Linked DNA regions of Homo sapiens: region 2 is linked to region 1. A link means that fine-mapping ties the variant in region 1 to the expression of a gene that starts in the linked region. Tissue or cell type: neutrophils. Region 1 holds a variant in brackets; the other region holds the start of a gene. All regions are shown on one strand. Distances are from middle to middle. Region 1 holds the start of LOC105375116 (TRIO and F-actin-binding protein-like). Region 2 holds the start of LINC03015 (long intergenic non-protein coding RNA 3015).

Evidence for each region. PIP is the estimated chance that this variant, and not a neighbour inherited with it, causes the effect.
Region 2: LINC03015 starts here. The variant in region 1 is fine-mapped to the expression of LINC03015 in neutrophils (BLUEPRINT, PIP 0.95).

Annotation. Positions count from the first base shown.
Region 1 is chr7:165,948-174,473 of GRCh38, forward strand. LOC105375116 (TRIO and F-actin-binding protein-like) reads left to right here and starts at 7,224. Exons shown (of 4, transcript XM_017012903.3): 1 at 7,224-8,526. The variant C/G (reference allele first, on the strand shown) is at 4,942.
Region 2 is chr7:145,190-154,119 of GRCh38, forward strand. LINC03015 (long intergenic non-protein coding RNA 3015) reads right to left here and starts at 4,249. Exons shown (of 3, transcript NR_134325.1): 1 at 4,140-4,249; 2 at 3,343-3,429. It overlaps LINC03014 (long intergenic non-protein coding RNA 3014), which reads left to right and starts at 4,529. Exons shown (of 2, transcript NR_108065.1): 1 at 4,529-4,943; 2 at 8,220-8,930. RefSeq lists an enhancer at 3,980-4,274.

The sequences.
Region 1 (8,526 bases):
CCTTTTGAAAATTATACGTTAGCAACCATAAACTGTTCTCTAAGTACATACAGGCAGCAGCTTAAAATCCTCCTGTGGGCTAAAGGCTGGGCAGTCCTATCAGGGCTGTGATGGGGGGAGGTGGCTGGTTTGTGGAGGAACTTCCCCTCCCTCCCTCCCTCCTTCCTTCTTTCCTTCCCTCTCTTCTTCCCCCTTCCCTCCCTCCTTCCCTCCCTCCCTCCTTCCCTCCCTCCCTCCTTCCCTCCCTTCCTCCTTCCCTCCCTCCCTCCTCCCTTCCTCCTTCCTATTCTCTGTCCCTCCGTCCTTCCCTCCCTCCCTCCTTCCCTCCCTTCCTCCCTCTCTCCCTCTTTCCCTCCTTCCTTATGTGAGACATGTGAGAGTCTCACCCCAGCCTTGGGGGACACAGCAGGACGCAGGCAGTGGGTGTAGTGGCCACTGGGTGGGCTGGAGGGGGCTGCTCAGAGGAAGTCTCTCTGAGTGCTTGGGGAATGAAAGGCCTTTAATGAGTAGAGACCGGAAAGGAGCAAATGCTTGTGTGTTTCTCAAGAAAACAGTGTGAGGGAAGGCACAGAAGCAGCTGGAGGAACAGGAACAGCTGGGGAAAGGGCACGCGTGGCCAGACAAGGAGGTCTAGAAGAGGCAGTGCCCTCACTCTCTGCACAGACCTCGTGCTGGGGATGGATGGAGACCAAGAGTCTGACCTTCTAGTGGGGGGTGTTTGAAAGCCCCTTAGGGCCCTGCCACCTGTGGTTTGGTGTTGACAACACCTGCTCTTCCCTGGGGGATCCGTGGACCTCCCTGCATGGTGCATGTGGCAGGGCCCTGTGGCTCCAGAAAATTCCTGGCCACCGTTGGGGTGCGGGGCAGGGTCAGTGTGCCCGGGTCCATGCCAGGCCACCGCTGCCCCCCAGGCTCACGACAGGACGGCGAGTGCTCCACACAGGTGGGGTGCCCTAGTTCTGTGCAGGTGCACGTCCGAGTGTGGCCTCTGAATCAATTCCCTGAATCAGCCCCACAATGGGGATGTCTGTGTAGACACAGCCCCTCGTTCCCAGCCCTACCAGCAACCTGAAAGGAGCCGTGTTCCTCGAGCCTATAAAATTAACCCCTTCAGCTGGCTGCTTACCCTACAGTGTCTCTGGTGAACCCACAAGGCCCAGCCCTTCCCAACTGGCCAGGACCTGACCCAGGAGCTGGTCTGCGGGAAGGCGTGGGCTTAGAAGGAAGTGGGGTGTGGGGCTCACGGCCCCTTCCTGAGGCTGCAGCTGCCCTGGGGAGGCCCCTGTGCTGAGACATCTTGGAGTGAGGGTGTCCGCTGAGAAGAGGGCTTAGCCGAGGCCCCTGGGTGGAGGTTCCTGGTGTTCACCCACCCTCCCTTCCTCCCGAGACCTGGCCGGCTGGCGTCCCCTTTGGTGCCGGTTGGAGGCTCTGCCTGCAGGCTGGGCTCCTCCCCAGTGGGAGCTGGTGTTCCTGGTATCACAAGAGCGTCTCCTGCTTCCTCTTCTTGCACAGGCAGGACCGTCAGGCCAGCCTCAGAGCCCTTTTCTTCTCCCAGCTCCCCCAGAAGTTGCCCCCTAATCACCCCTTCCAAGGACATTTCCCTTATTTTCCACTCAAGACAGCGCGAGGCCATCCCTCCTGCCCCCGTGTCAGAGCCCCCGAGGCCCCCAAGGCAGACACGAAGCTCATCCCGAGAGGGACCTCGTGAGGGCTGCGGTGGCCCAGCGGGAGGTGCTGCGTCCTGACCACACACATCACAAGCTCCAAGTCAGCACCTGTGTGAGGAACAGGCTCTATTCACGTCTCTCAACGTGGAGAATGAGCTTCTACCGTGCTAGGAGCTTCCTTGCCTGCTGTGCACTTTCGTCTGATCAGCAGCCAGATGCTTTTACAGTGTTCCCACAAGGACAGCGAGCACCAGGACCCCACCTCTCGATTGTATTGTGTCCAGTTCTACTGCGACTCCAGGATAGCCCCTGAGAAAGGAGAACACAAACACACAGAAAGGGAACATCAGCTCTGCCCTCCCTGAGCGCCTTGTCTAAGTCTGAGGGTGGTGCCACCTCTGATGGATGCTGAGGTATGGAGCCTCTGTCATCTATGACCAGACATATGGGGCAGGCAGAGATACACAAAGGCCTGCAATGGGAGCAAACACAGGCTCTGCACAGGAGCCTCCGGTGGCCTCGGGGCCAAACGTCACTGTGTCCAGCGGGTGGGGGAGCTCCAGGCTGCCGGCAGCCGGCCGTCCTACACGTCAGGCTAGAGGAGCACCCGTGGCTTCTCTGGCTGGGCCTGAGGTGGGAGTGATGTGGGGAGGGTGGTGGTAAACAATCAGAGAAACTGGCAGTGTGGACCAAGTCCTGACCTCGGGGCAGCTGCTGCAGAGGCCCTGGCCAGAGTCCCATGGGCATCCTCAGTCCGGCTGGGGTTGGGGTGTCCCTGGAGGGTCCGTGTCCCTGGAGGGTCCGTGTCCCTGGTGGATCCGTCTCCTGGAGGGTCCATGTCCCTGGAGGGTCCATGTCCCTGGTGGATCCGTCTCCTGGAGGGTCCGTGTCCCTGGTGGATCCGTGTCCCTAGTAGATCCGTCTCCTGGAGGGTCCGTGTCCCTGGCGGATCCGTCTCTGACCGCGCGTGCTCTTCACCATGGAAGGAGGTGCTGGTAGCCAAGCCGCCCTCCCCAAGTGGGCGTCCACTTTGAGGAAACGCGTGTGTGAGTCCCCTTGTTGGCTGGGTGTCTCCGTCTAAAGGGACAGCTGGAACTCCCCACAGTACAAGGTCTCACCAGGGCCCCTCAGATCCCACACAGCTGCAGGGATGTCCCTGCTGCCCGAGGTCTGGTGAGAGGCTTGATGGAGGATTCTGCCAACCCCCACCTCAAAACCCTCACAGCAGCTGCATTTTGAGGTTTTGTTCAATTTTATTTGCAGGTCTTCAAAATGAAAAAAATTTATATGTACCAGGCCAGGTGTGGTGGTGGCTCATGCCTGTAATCCCGGCAGTTTTGGAGGTCAAGGTGGGCAGATTGTTGAACCCAGGTCTTTATGGCCAGCCTGGGCAGCGTAGTGAGACCTCACCTGTACAAAAAATTAAAACGTAGCGAGACACGGTGGCAGGATCGCTTGCGCCCGAGAGGTCAAGGCCGCAGTGAGATGTGATCGCACCACTGCACTCCAGCCTGGGTGACAAAGTGAGTCATTTCTCTCTCTCTCTATCTATATATATAATCCAGTGAATCTAAAGCATTTCCACGTTAAAAGTCACAAGGATCATTTCAAAGGAAAAATGGACCTGAGCTACTCTCTGCCTCAGCTCAAGACCCTGCTGGGGAAATCGTTAGGTGGAGCCTTTGCTGGAAACAGCACCATCAGGTCCGCCTGTGCCCCAGCGCCCGGGGAACACAGGCATCCCTCCCCTCCGGAGGGCCTCCCCAGGCGGTAGAGACCAGTGCATTAGGCAGAGGCCTCGGTCCTGCCCGGATCTGCCATCTCCTCGTTGTGTGGGTTCCAACCTTGCTTTAATAGCTCCCACACCATTACCAGGAAATGGATCCACTTACTCTGTGCGGATGAGAATTCCATTAATGTTCGCTCTGACCTTTGCTAATCCCAGCGTCATTCGCAGTGCCTCCATCTCAAAATCTCCTTAATGCCAAAGGCGGTAATGGGTGTCTGCTGTGCCTGCCTAATGAGCTGTAAAATGAACCAGTGGGTGATTTGTTTCTTGCCGTCAAGACCCTGGTTAAGTGACGGCCAGGACGGTGGAAGGAAGGCCGGGGGTCCTGTCCCCCAGACGGCACTCCAGACATCAGGCTCTCGGATCACAATTGATTCAAAGGTAAAAACACGTTCATGCACACACCTGGTTTTCCATTCTCTTAACATTTTTTTCTCCATAATTAGTTTCTCCAGCATCATCTTGGGAGAATGTTGACGTCACTGATCTTGGTTTCTCGGATGGTGATGAATCTGGGCAGGGGGCTGGAGTGGAACCTGCCAGCCCCTCCTCAGCCCGGGCGCCCGACCTCAGCTCCCTCCAGCCCTGGACTCTGTTTTCTTCCAAGACTGGGCCCTGCTTCCCTGCACCACGGTCCGCCTGGATCCTGCACACCCAGCCCGGTGGCTCCTGCCCACTCAGCGGGGCCCTGACGCCCTACATCTCCTCTGTGAGCAAAAGCTCTCTTGTTGTTAGAGAGACTTGCGGAAGCCACACACCCATAGACCGTTACTTCTACACATTCTTTTTATTTCACACAGATCTGCATCCCTTGAAGTACTCACGGGGACGTATTCCGCATGGTTTCCATCTTAGTGCACATAGAACACGGTTTTAACTTACAATCGGCACTGTCTTCTCAAGATCTGTCACTTTGAAAACGTCATTGCCAATAATTGTACATATTGCGTTAATTTCCTAAATCACTATTCACCATCCATCCTTCAAATGCTGAAAACACTCTCTTGATTCCCAATTTAAATACTTTTACAGGCAATACCACAAATGCCTTTAGAAATGGAAGTTTGTCTTCTTCTTGTTATTTTTGTCTCTTGTTTCTTCCATCGAATAATGGCCTTGTCGAGTTGGTGAGAGTGAATCACTTGTGAGTCTTGATTTCCAAAGAGGCTGAGCAGATTTACAAGGCCACAAACACCTACTTCAGATGAGACCTTTGGGGTCTCTCAGGAGGGGCGAGAGACAGAGCCGGTGACTCGCTGGGCGCTGACAGGACCCGCAAGGGTTGGTTCGTCAGTATCCACCACCCCCTTCCTCTCGCTGATGCTGCTCTGAATCTGACACTGTGGATTGGTTCGGCTGCTGTAGGATTTTCTACAAACGGAACATGGACAGGTCCTCTTTGGGTCCGCCCTTTGGTCTCAGCATCATGGCTGAGACAAGTCCTGTCGTAGCTATGTCAGAGTGGCGGGGTCCTCACTTCTCACT[C/G]CTGTCCAGATTCTCCTGTGTGTACCCCACAGGCTGTGCACCCGCTCTGCCATCAGTGGGCATCTGGGGCGCATGGCAGACCATGTGCATGTCGGCCATGTGAGCCCATGTCCTGGTGTCCACCCCATGCAGCCTGTCCCGGGGGTGGCCTGAGGCTGCCTTGCCTCCCCTGGGCTGAGGCTGGGACACCTGTGGCCTGTCTTACCCTTTTGCTGGCGTCCTCTGGGGAGTATCCAGAAGTGAGGGGCCCCACGGAGAGGCGCATGCAGCAGGAACCCCAGGCAGTGCCGGCAGCCCCAGGAGAGAATCCCACCAGCCGCCATGCGAGTGAGCTTGGAGACCACGCAGTCGGGAGAGGCCGCCCGGCCACAGAAAAAAGTCGTCCTGTTGTTCAGGATCCAGGCCAGGGTCATCTGCTGAGCAGCAACAGACAAGGAAAACCGCCGTTACGGGCACTGCTGCCATCTCGCAATTTACATAAAGTCTCAGCTCTGTGCGTGGGACAGCAGCGTTTGAAGCTGTCCCCATCAAGGGCCTGTACAACCACCTCCTTCACAGTTAGGGGTTGGCCGTCCTGAGGCTGCCCGACCCCCTCCCGGCTCCCCGACCCCCTCCCGGCTCCCCGACCCCCTCCCGGCTCCCCGACCCCCCTCCCGGCTCCCCTTGTCTGGGAAGCAGCTCTCTCCAGTGTAGCCACTCAACACGGCTGGTTTCATTGCAGCAGCGCACGCCCACCTGTGGCCACCCCGGCCTCCTCCCCGACACCCACACGGAAGGCCGTGTCCCCTCCCCTCCGTGTCCTGGGCGCAAAGGGCGCCCGGAGTGCCTGCGTGTGGACGCACAAGCCCAGGGCCACGGCGCTGCAGGGCAGCCCTTTTCTCACTGCAAGCCTGCACCCTTCTCTCACTGCTTTCCAGGGGGAGCTCTCTCAGGTCCAGAGCCCCACGGCTCACACCTCCTCTCCTGCCTCTGGCTTCCTGTCTTCAGGAGGATATTTCAAGTTCCAAGAAGGTACTCAGTAACTTCTTTGACTAATATTATGTTGAGAAATGATCATTTTACTTTCAGGTGCTTTTTAAAAGCTACATTCACAGAAATTTTAAAAAATCTCAATATGCGGTCATCTGCGTTTTCTGCTGGGGCACGCTTCAGTTCTGTGTTGGACACTGCGGAGAGTAGAGGGCTGGGCACAGCATCTGCACGGAGCCGGGCGCAGCACCTGCACGTGCAGACAGGGGAGGGCCCCTGGAGGGCTCAGCTCCCGCGTGAGGGTCCAGCCTGGACACAAGGTTGAGACGCACATGGGGACAAGTGGGAGGTATTGGGTGGGGCACAGGGGCTAGGAGGCCAAGGGCTTGCTCCTGGAATTCTATACAGGCCTGCAAACCCTGCTCAGTGGAACACCACACCAGACACAGTTCTGGGGCTGGAGGAGCCGCAGCCACCCCGGGACCCCCACCATCCTGGCATCAAGGGCCTCAGACTCTGCTCTCTGTAAGCTCCCTCTGGAGGGAGCAGAGCCAGTGAGATCTGGAGAACAGAGGGTACCTGGGCCCTTCCTGGAGAGTGGGGGACACTTCGTGTTCGTGGGAACGTCCAGCTGCCATGAGGGTCCCTGGGGCAAGCTGGAGGTACGTGCGGAGAAGGGGGCCAGCTCCTCTCAGGCAGCCCACTCCAGCCTATCTGTGACACTGGCTTCACGAGGGGAGTGAGGAGAGGGATGCGGGCCCTTAGCAAACCAGGAAGCCTGAAAAACACCTATTGACAAGAGCGGGTCAGAGGAGCTGGGGAGACGGCCCAGGTCAGCCCAGTTCAGAGGGAGAGGGCCCAGGTCAGCCCAGTTCGGGGGGAGAGGGCCCAGGTCAGCCCAGTGCGGGGGGAGAGGGCCCAGGTCAGCCCAGTGCGGGGGGAGAGGGCCCAGGTCAGCCCAGTGCGGGGGGAGAGGGCCCAGGTCAGCCCAGTCCGGGGGGAGAGGGCCCAGGTCAGCCCAGTGCGGGGGGAGAGGGCCCAGGTCAGCCCAGTGCGGGGGGAGAGGGCCCAGGTCAGCCCAGTGCGGGGGGAGAGGGCCCAGGTCAGCCCAGTGCGGGGGGAGAGGGCCCAGGTCAGCCCAGTCCGGGGGGAGAGGGCCCAGGTCAGCCCAGTCCGGGGGGAGAGGGCCCAGGTCAGCCCAGTCCGGGGAGAGAGGGCCCAGGTCAGCCCAGTCCGGGGGGAGAGGGCCCAGGTCAGCCCAGTGCGGAGGGAGAGGGCCCAGGTCAGCCCAGTGCGGAGGGAGAGGGCCCAGGTCAGCCCAGTCCAGCTGAGGCTCTCGGAGGACAGGACCCGCCCCGCGCTGCCAGTGCCGAAGCTTGGGTTCTCTGAGGACTGCGAGGGGGTCTCAGCACTGTGTCCACAGATGGGGCAGGGACCTCCGCAGGGAACCTTCTCTCGGCTGGGCCAGCCCACCCCAGGGGCTGTAGACGAGGGAGTTAATGAACACGGGATGGGTTGAGCCGCCTGGTTTGCCCACAGAGGGGCGAGGAAGGGAGTGGGGAGTCTGCTGTGAGCGGAGAGAGGACAGCCTGAGGCCTCAGGAACGCTGGCTGCCTGCCTGCAGCGGGAGCTAACGGGGCGTCTGTCGGGAAGGGGCACGGCCACAGGATTTAGGGGCAGTTTGGACACACTGGTCCGGTGAGCTTGATTTCAGATTCCGGGATCTGGTTTCGGAGTGGAGTTGTGGACTCTCCAGGACCCATCGCTGAGGAGCAGGAGGTTCTCCAGGGGCCATGGGGCCCGGGGCTCTGAGGGAGGCTCTGCACTCCCAGCATGAGGTCACCACAGGGCTAGGCCAGGGCCCAGACACAGCAAGCCACCAAGAGGAGGCCGGCCGGCGTGGAAGCCTCGCAGAGGGTGAATTCCAAAGAGGGCCCCTCCTGCTCTGAGACCCACACTCCCGAGCCACACTCAGCAGGTGACGTGCAACAAGACCCTTAGGGTTAGGGTTAGGGTTAGGGTTAGGGACCCCAGGCTCCATGCATGCCAGGGAGAGGCAGCGGTGTGCGAGGGCCTCCTGGTGCCTGGCAGACCAGGAGTGAATTTTGGCTGTCACCTTCTCTGAGTTACTCCAGTGTAGAGAGGCAAGGCCTGGGTCCAGGGTTGTCTCAGTCTCAGTGCAGCCCCTCAGAATGGGGGGCCCATGCCTAGCACCCTGGGTGGGGAGGAGCAGGCAGCTAGCTGGAGCTTCTGGCCCTTTTAAAAGAGGCCCCATTCCCTGGGCCTCGAGGGAGTGGCTGTGCACATTCAGACATGCACTGACCCATGTACACACACACATACACGCACACGTGTATGCACACTCACACGTATATTTGTACATACACATGTGCATACATCCACATGTACAGGTACACACAGGTATGCACGAAGGAGGTTCCCAAACCCTTTCTGCACCCCTTAGCTGCCTTCCAAAGGGACACGTCCTGATTTCCCTGTGGTGGGACACTGAGCATGCCCAGCTTCTGCGGGGCCAGGTGACGCACACGAACTCAGGGTCTGCTGAGGCAGGTGCATTGGCGACGGTGGACAGCAGAGAAGTGGGATGCCTAGCGG
Region 2 (8,930 bases), 21 kb before region 1:
AGAGAATCAACGACTGACTTCGCTGAGGCACGGTGATGAAAAGGTCAAGGTGGTCTGGTCTGAGTGAAGTCACAGCAAGAACCCTTGTCCAGGGCCATTCTCACCTTTGGGGACAGCTCCTTCCCTGTATGGTCCTCATGTCACTGCACTTTCCTGCCTTGTTTCTTGCTGAAGCCATTATTTCTTAATTCCTTAGTAGATATGCAGAGCGGACATCCCAAAGAAGCTAGAAAAATTGATGAGCAGGGAACAGATCAAATCCTCTCCATCAGTGGAAGGCAATTCACGAGGGAAGAAGGCAAGACCATGGGGTAATTTTTCTGAGACTTGACAATGTTTGCCAAGTAAATAAATCTGCCATTTAACACTACGATAAAAGCTGTCATAGCCAGGGTATTAGTGACTACTTGAGGTTTGAGGACAATGAAGACAGAGTAAGATAAACATCCTTACTATCCAGAAAAAAAAAACGGAACCAGAAGACAGCGCTTCTTACTATCCACAAAAGAAATGGAACCGCAAGACAGCCCTTCTTATTTTTCTCCATCTTCGATGGTGAGGAAGAATAAAAAAAAAGTTGCTTTTAAAGTATATTCATTAAAATCAAATTCTATTATCATACACACAAAATATTTACGTGAAACCAGCCACAAAAGAATGACAAGGAACGCTACTGATTTGTCCATTCTGGGGGATAAGAACACAGATTCTTATCTCACTCTTGTTAAAAGAAAACTTCAGCTGAATTAAATTTAAAGGAGTTTAATTGAGCAATGAATGATTTGCACATCGGGCAGCCCCCAGAATTACAGCAGATTCAGAGAGACTCCAGTGCAGCCACGTGGTGGAAGATTTATAGACAAAAAAAGGGAAGTGAGGTAGAGAAACACCTGGATTAGTTACAGGTTGGCATTTGCCTTATTTACACACAGTTTGAACATTCAGCAGTGTATGAGTGATTGAAGTACGGCTGCTGGGACTGGCCGAGACTCAGCAATTGTGACAGGTACATACTCCTAATTTAGGTTTTCAATCTTGTCTACCTATTAAGTTAGGCTCAGTTTGTTCACAGGGACTCCAATACAGAAGTACGGAGTCCTTCTCAGGCCATATTTAGTTCGCTTTAACAATTCCCCCTTTTTGGTCATTTTATCAGTTTTGAGAGATTGATCGAAACTTGAGTTATTGATGTCACTGTCACCATTGGTCTTGAAACCCACTAGGAAGCAGAACAGTGAGTTTTGCAAAGGTAGGAACAAGGACTGAGTTGAGGATACCACCTTATGCTGGAAAGTCCTGTTTGCAAGAGAAAAACAAAACCTGGTCTATTCTAGGACCCATGTGTTTCCTTAAAGTCTTAATTCGATTATGTCACATTTAGCACGAATGATGCCATTTTGGTTCGGTTTGGTCTGTTGGGACCTAGTGCTCAGTCCAAAACAATGGCCTCCCATCATTTTGTTTAAAAAATTCCCCCTTTGTCAGGTTGTCACTTAGGCAAGAGTGTGACCAAAACTTAGGATGTTAGCGCCACTCTCCGTTACTATCATTTTGGATTTCCAGTCTCAGCATGTCACTCATCGGTTTCGGTGTCCTCGTGGTCACACATTTCTTTCAGCTCTTGTCATTCCAGTTGAAGAGAGACCATCTGACGTTCTAAAGATGGCTTCATGCAAACATTTAAAACCTTTGAGAGAATACAGTGCACCAGGGAGACTATTCTTATGACTACTGAGAGGGTTAACACCAAGAATTTGGAGTATGCTCCTTAGCCAGGGTCCCCATAAACCAGACCACCTAAACTCAAATAGACCATTCTTTGACTTAACTCAGTGGTCTTTTCGTTAATTCCCTACAACAGACTCTCTATAACACCTGATGTTTTCTCCATAGGCCTTAAGTGCCAGCATCTGCACAGGTACTTTCCTGTTTAGCCAATTCTATTTTTTAGCATAACTTTCACAAGAGAATTTAACATCTGTTGTGTAGCCTTTACAGTAGAATCTGCTACAGAGTCTACCATGAGGGATATGTTTCTAGTCATTGCCTTTTTAATTCCAAACCATGGAAAAAGGACCTAACAAATGATGCCCTTCTAGAAGAGGGAAGGCCTCTTGGCAATGGTCTCTTTAACCCATGCTGTGGGTTAAGAGGAGTGAACCAATGTTCTGCTTCTGAATGATTATGAGGCACCATATGTACCATTGAAGTTTCTCACCTATGATACACTGGGCCTTCATCTTTATCTATCAAGTTATAAGATTATCCATGTATAAAGCTGGCTGCAAAGCCCTTCACAAATAAAAGTATACCCCATAAGTGCACAAAACAGACCCCCTTCTCACTTCTGTTGTTCACAGAGGCGGAAGCAACGGAAAAACATTCAAAGATAAGAGTCTCATGATAGTAAGAAGTCTTGATCCATGATCTTCAGAAAGAGCTGCTCACATCAAGGATGCCATCTTCTTCTGGGGAGAAACTTCCCTGATTAGCTTTACCTTAAGGGTTTCAATGGATGTAGAGTTCCAAGAGTGACCCTGCTCAGTTGTGAGATTATGACCCCAAGGTTCAAGATCCTGATGTTTTGTTGCAGTGATGATGCCAAGGGCAGCGTTTCTCTGATGTTCTCAGAAGATCCCATCTTTGGGTTCTAGATTGTGAAGGGGTTGATTGTCCTCAGTGAACCATAAAAAGCTCTTTACCTGGTGAAAATACACTGATACATAGTAATCTACTGTTATAACATTAGCCCTCCTGCATGGGAAAGCTTTAGTACAACCAGAACACATACATTGAAAATGACAACTGAATGAAACCCCTTTATAAATGTTTAAATGCCTCATCAGGTAGCCAAATGTACATGAAGCTTTGATTGACTTCCCAGGAGTATGGGTTTGACAAACTAAACATTGTTTATAAACTATTTTAACAATCTGTAAGTCACCACACCAACATATTTAATTTGGATCATTTTATCTTTTCCAGGATGAGTCATGGAATGCATAACTTTTAATAACAAAAGCTTTAAGGACTCACGAAGGACAAGGCAGCCATCTTGGTTCTCCATGAGTCCATGCTTAACATCGGACTTATGTCCTCTTGGGTGCCAGTTGTTTCTCCAAATTGGGCACATAGCATGGATAACTGATGGGTTATCACAGGTAATTTGACTTAGACCATGGAGTTCATTCAAATTGTATATCTAAACAATTTCAGTATAGGCTGATTAAGTATGCAAACCTGGTGAAGCATTTCCTCGGTATTCAATTAATTTTTATTCTATTTGGGTTAGCAGTTTTATAAGCCAGTCAGTCTTTTCATTAAAGTTTCAGCAATTCTTACCCAGTCCAAATGATGTGATTTTGAAGTTACTAGAAACCTGTATTCCACAGTGCTTTTCAGGGTCCTCCCCATCCGTTCACGAACCTCCTAAAAGACACCATGTTCTAGGATTTTTGTGTGCTTGTGAAGTTTTCAGAAACTACATCAGCATGAAGCAATTAACTGCGGAAATGACTTTAAATACTCAAAAAGACACAATTGACAAAGAAATTTGGTTATAACAACAACATAACCATAATTATGATCGGTAGCATATACTCAGAAAAATTAGAATTTTAGAAATCCCATACAACTTTGGAACATATATTAATATCATTCACTAAAATATAACCTGAAGAAGGTTAAATTTTTTTTTTGACACTATTCTGTATCGAAAAGTCCAAAATGTTTCTTAAAAAGTAACTAAAAAAACACTGGAGTAATTAAAGGACACTTCCTGTGCAGGGGATGGAAAAATCTCAACAAAAAAGGAGCGCAGAAGAGCCTGGCTAGGCGGGAGAACACGGTCAGGCCCGCAGGAGACGCCGCGGCACCTGCCAGAAAGAGAGCCGCAGGCCAAGACCAGGAGACGCGAGAGAGGTGGGCAGGGCTGCCCGAGAGACCCAGGCGGCCATTGCCCGCCCTGCGTCTGCGCCTGCGCCGGAGCCTCCTCCACACTGCGCCAGCGCCGAGTCCGGCCGCCTCCTCATTGCGCCGGCGCCGGGGCTTCCTCCACACCGCGCCTGCGCCGATGACAACCCGCCTCTACAGGACGCCTGCGCAACGCCATAGTCACCTCATCAGCTCCGTGCACTTACGAGTCTCTCTCTGATCGACCACGTGTTCCTGTCGGCTCACAGAGGCCGCCTCAGGGTCCTCCCCCATTGTCTTCCTCGCACCCTCCACTGTTCCCGGCCCTTCACTCTGCGCTTGCGCAGGAGTCGCTCGCTCCTCTCTGCGCCTGCGCAGAGGCCACCTCCTCCCCGCCCGTCCGCTCCCTTGGCGTCGTCTTGGGCCGCGCCCCGACCCCTTCTGTTTACGCATGCGCAGGAGCCGCCCTGCGCGGGTGGGGGGCTGAGCCCCTGTGGCTTCAGGTTTAAAGGCGCGAGCGCCACCCACGCAGGCACAAGGGCTCCTAGTCGTTTTATTTTTAGCGTAAGGTTTTCCTCTTTAACAAGGAAGTAAAAAAAAAAGTTGTGCAATAAATATTAATCGTCCTTATATGTACTCGGGAACGTTCGTCCTTTAGGTTTTCTCCTGGCGCATGGGCGCCGCCAATCATTTCGGGGCTTATTTTGGTTCTAAAGCCCGGGGCAGCCAGGCCTCCCTGCCTGGCCTCGGCGGGGACGCGGGACCTGGGGCCCCGGACCGGGCCTAACCGCCCTGGCCGGTCCCCACTGATGGTGGCGGTCGGTCCTGATCGTCCTGATGGCAGCGACCAGGCTGGACTCGGGCTGTGCAGGGGCGAGGGGAGCAGGGCGGGGTGACGCCCGGAGAGCGGCCTGGAGAGCGCGTGCTTCAGAAGGCGTGGGCACCCTGTCCCCTTTGCAGATGGGGATGCAGGCCCTGGTGGCGGTGGAGGGGAGATGGGGGCAGGGACGTTGCCGGGCAGAGGAAGCTGGGTGAGTGTGCACTTGGTCCCCTTTGCTCCTCCCTGGGACTTTGGGCTCTATAGGGCAGCCTCCGAGGCCCACGTGCACACTCGGTGAACCACAGTCCAGACACAGGCAGGGCGGCAGGCCAGGGAAGGAGAGGCCAGGTGTTGGTGCATGGAGAGGCCAGGTGTTGGCCTGGGGGTGCTAAGTGAACCCCCAAGGTCGCGGAGACAGTAGGGCAACAGCAAAACGAGCTCTGCCGTCCAGGGCGAGGGCCCGGAGTCCTCCCCAGGGGTGGGCTGCAGAGAAGCCCCTGTCCAGGCCCTGCTCACCTGCAAAGTGCTCCCGAGCTCCTGTGCCCCCAGCAGCAATCCCAGCCCCGCTGACACCCAAGCTTGTCACCCGCTGGGTTTCTTGAGGTCTGAGGACCGTGGCTGAGGGTGCATGGGCGCTGGGATGGAGGGGGATGTCCTGTCCCAGTCTGTGCTTATTAATTGTTAAAGAGGGCAAGGCTGCTTTTATTCAAGGTGGGGGGGCTGCTAAAGCGAGATGTTGGGTTAGGGGAGGCAGATCCGGCTCAACTCCAGATAGAAAAAGTGGGAATTGACAGCCCAGGCGTAGGGTCGGGAGTGGAGAGAAAATTACTAAGAGGAAGGGTCAGGGGCAAGGCGGGTTCTAGCTGCATAGACAGGATTTTTGCTGAAAAGGCAGGCAGTGTGGTCACAGACCGAGGGTGGGAGTTGAGGACTTTGATCAGGGACCAAGAGTAGACGATTTTCACTAAACCGACTCAGCAGGATTCTTGCTAAATCGGCCGAAACCGGCCAAGGTCAGGGACTGGTCACAGGGAGGGCTCAGAGGAGCCTGACTCGAGTGTGGTCAAAGGAGAGAGTCTTTGTCATCTTTTAAGAGGCGAGAGTGACGTATTAGTGAGAAACGGTGAAGGGATCAAGCTCAGGCCAGCAGCCCCGAGTTTGAGATGAGGACAGGCTGGGTCCAGGAAGGGCTGCAGGAATAGGGGGCACCTGAGCCTGCAGAAAGCGGGGAGCCCAGCCGCCAGAGCAGGCACCCCCAGGCAGACCTCAGTGTGTCCTGCCCTGTGGGAGTGGCAAGGCCAGACCAAGCTGGATGTGAACCAGTCCCAGAACACCGCCTAGAATTTGGATTGTAATTTGTTATCGATGATATTGCTGCTTGGTCTCTCTCCTCTTCCTCCCCACCCCCACCCAAGATGGAGTCTGGCTTTGTCCCCCAGGCTGGAGTGCGATGGCAGGATCTCGGCTCACTGCAACCTCCGCCTCCTGGGTTCAAACAATTCTCCTGCCTCAGCCTCCCAAATAGCGGGGATTACTGGTGCGTGCCACCACACCCAGCTAATTTTTGTATTTTTGGTAGAGACGGGGTTTCATCATGTTGGCCAGGCTAGTCTCAAACTCCTGACGTCGTGATCCGCCCACCTCAGCCTCCCGAAATGCTTTGGGATTACGGGTGTGAGCCGCCGCGCCGAGCATGGCCATCGTGGCTACATCAGTCCCGGCTAATAGAGATTTTAGCACACTCAGATTCTATTGGCTAATAAGATTTAATTATAATTCTGGGGTATTTAACAATGTCGTTATACAGTCTTCATTGTTGCAAATGGAGAATGAAATCGGGTGCATGTGACACTAATATGACCTGTTCATGCTCTGTCACTTAAACGGAGTTAAGTAACATAGCCCTGAGCAGGAAGACTCCTTCCCCACTTCTGTCCAGGAGCTCCTTACTCGATTCTGGGGAACAGAAAGGCTTTCAGCGGCCAAGGGGAGTGACAACAGCCAGACATGAGACACCTCCTAGAGCCCTTTGGTGTTACCCTTTCCGGTCCATCAGCCACAGTGTCCACCCCAGGTAGCTGGGTCCTGAGTTCACCGTCTCAGGACATTTTTCGACCTGGTTTGTCTGAATTATTATTATTATTGATCATTGAGACAGGGTCTCAGTCCATCGCCAAGACTGGAGTGCAGTGGTGTGATCCTGGCTTACTCAGCCTCCCAGGCTCAGGTGATCCTCCCAGCTCAGCCTCCTGCGTAGCTGGGACCACAGGCAGGCACCACCATGCCTGGCTAAATTTTTTGTATTTTTTGTAGAGACCAGCTCTCGCTATGTTGTCCAGGTTGGTCTCAAACTGCTGCCTCAGCCTCCCAAGGTGCTGGGATTACAGGCATGAGGGACCAAGCTCAGCAATCTGAATTATTTATGCAGAATTTTTTTTTCTCTAGCTGGAAGAGCTGTTTATATGCACGTTTCTTTGGGGGCAACTCTTCTCCATTGTCACAGATTTTTTTTTTCCAAGCCATTCCTGGGGGATTCCTGGGAGCCATGTGGGAGAGGCGTGAGGAAGTGAGACCTTCACCCCGAGACAGGTCCTGACACACCCTCTGGTGCCTCTACTCAAGTGAGGTGAGAGGGGAAACTGGTGTATTTTTAGATGAAGTTTCCTTGGGAAATTGTTTCTATTTTATATTTTATCAGTAATCCCCTGGCTAATGTTTTAAACCAATATTTATAACACTGCCTCAGAGCTTTGGAATAAACAGATTTCCATAAAGAAAAGCTGCTTTAGAGTGCTACACTGTAAGAGGGGCCGGGCAAACAAGAAGGGACGGAGGAAAGACCACCAAGTGAGAGGCACAGGTGTCAGGACACACAGAGAGCCCGAAAACGAGGCAGAGGTGAGCGGGGACCAGCAGCACAGCGGCACTGACGCGCCAGGGACTTGGGCTCTGCTGGCCTCCTCCCTCGCGGCCAGCAGTGGCAGTGGTGGGAGTAGGCCTGGCTTGTCTGTGGTTGCCTTTGTTGCTTTAATTGAAAGTACTCAAGGCTATTTCTTGTCGCGTCATTTCTGACAGTGTCCGGTGGTCCCTACCCTGTAATGCCAGGAGGTTCCAGCCCCACCCTTCCCTCCCCACTCCCTCTTTCATCTCCCGGATCCTATTAGAGGATTGCTTTTATAGCTGATGAGCTGATGAAGTATGCATTTAGCCCTTTAACCGTAACTGAATTTCCCCTGGTGCACATCTGTATGAAGGGTGTGCACCAGGGCTGAGCCGTCTGCTGGGCGAATATGTCCCTCCCTGAGGCCCAGGACCACAACCCCTGAGTCACTCAAAGGAATCGTTCCCAGCCTTAAGGTCAGATGCGCTTTCTCCTTGTCCTCCATTATTTCTTTAAATTCCTGCCACATTTAAGTTTCTTTATATTTAAACTAAGACCTTTTATTTCTTAAACTTCTAATTGCTGTTCTTTTATTATTTTTGATAGAAGTTTGGCTGCTGTAACTGACTGGGAAGCTTAAAATAACAGACAATCATCTCTCACATTTATGGGGACTGGGAAGTCCAAGACCAAGTTGCCATCTGGGGAGGGCCTGTTCCTCACAGCGCCTTCCAGCTCAGGCCTCGTTTATAAGGGCACTCAAGCCTTCCACGACAACGGGTCCTCATGACTTACTCACCTCGGAAAGCCCCACCCCCAAGACCATCACATTGTGGGTGATGGCAGAGCATAAGGTGCCTTCCCCACATGCTCGGGTTGGCCCAGCGTCTCACGCTAGCAGCTACGTGGAATAGTTATTTTTTCTGGAGAACTCTGGGACCCCTCTGATGTCTTGGAGCACCCACACAGGCCGTTCACTGTGCACGCTGTGAGGCTGTCGTCTTGGAGCACCCACACAGGCCGTTCACTGTGCACGTGGTGAGGCTGTCCTCTGGGGAGTTCTGCTGTTGTATGGGTTCTGTCTGTGTCAATGTCCCAGCGGGAACGCAGGGCACACTAGCGTCATCCCCAGAGGGCTTGGTAAGGGGACTGTTTGCAGAGACATAGGCAGAGGGCTGGAAAACTACCAAAAAAGTGCAGTGTTCTGGACCTAATAATAGCAGAGCTATTCTCACCCTGGTCTGAAGGCAGGAGGGGAGGAGCAGTTAATGGATTCTGGAAGTCAGGTTGCACAGAGTCACCTTGAAAGATGCCATG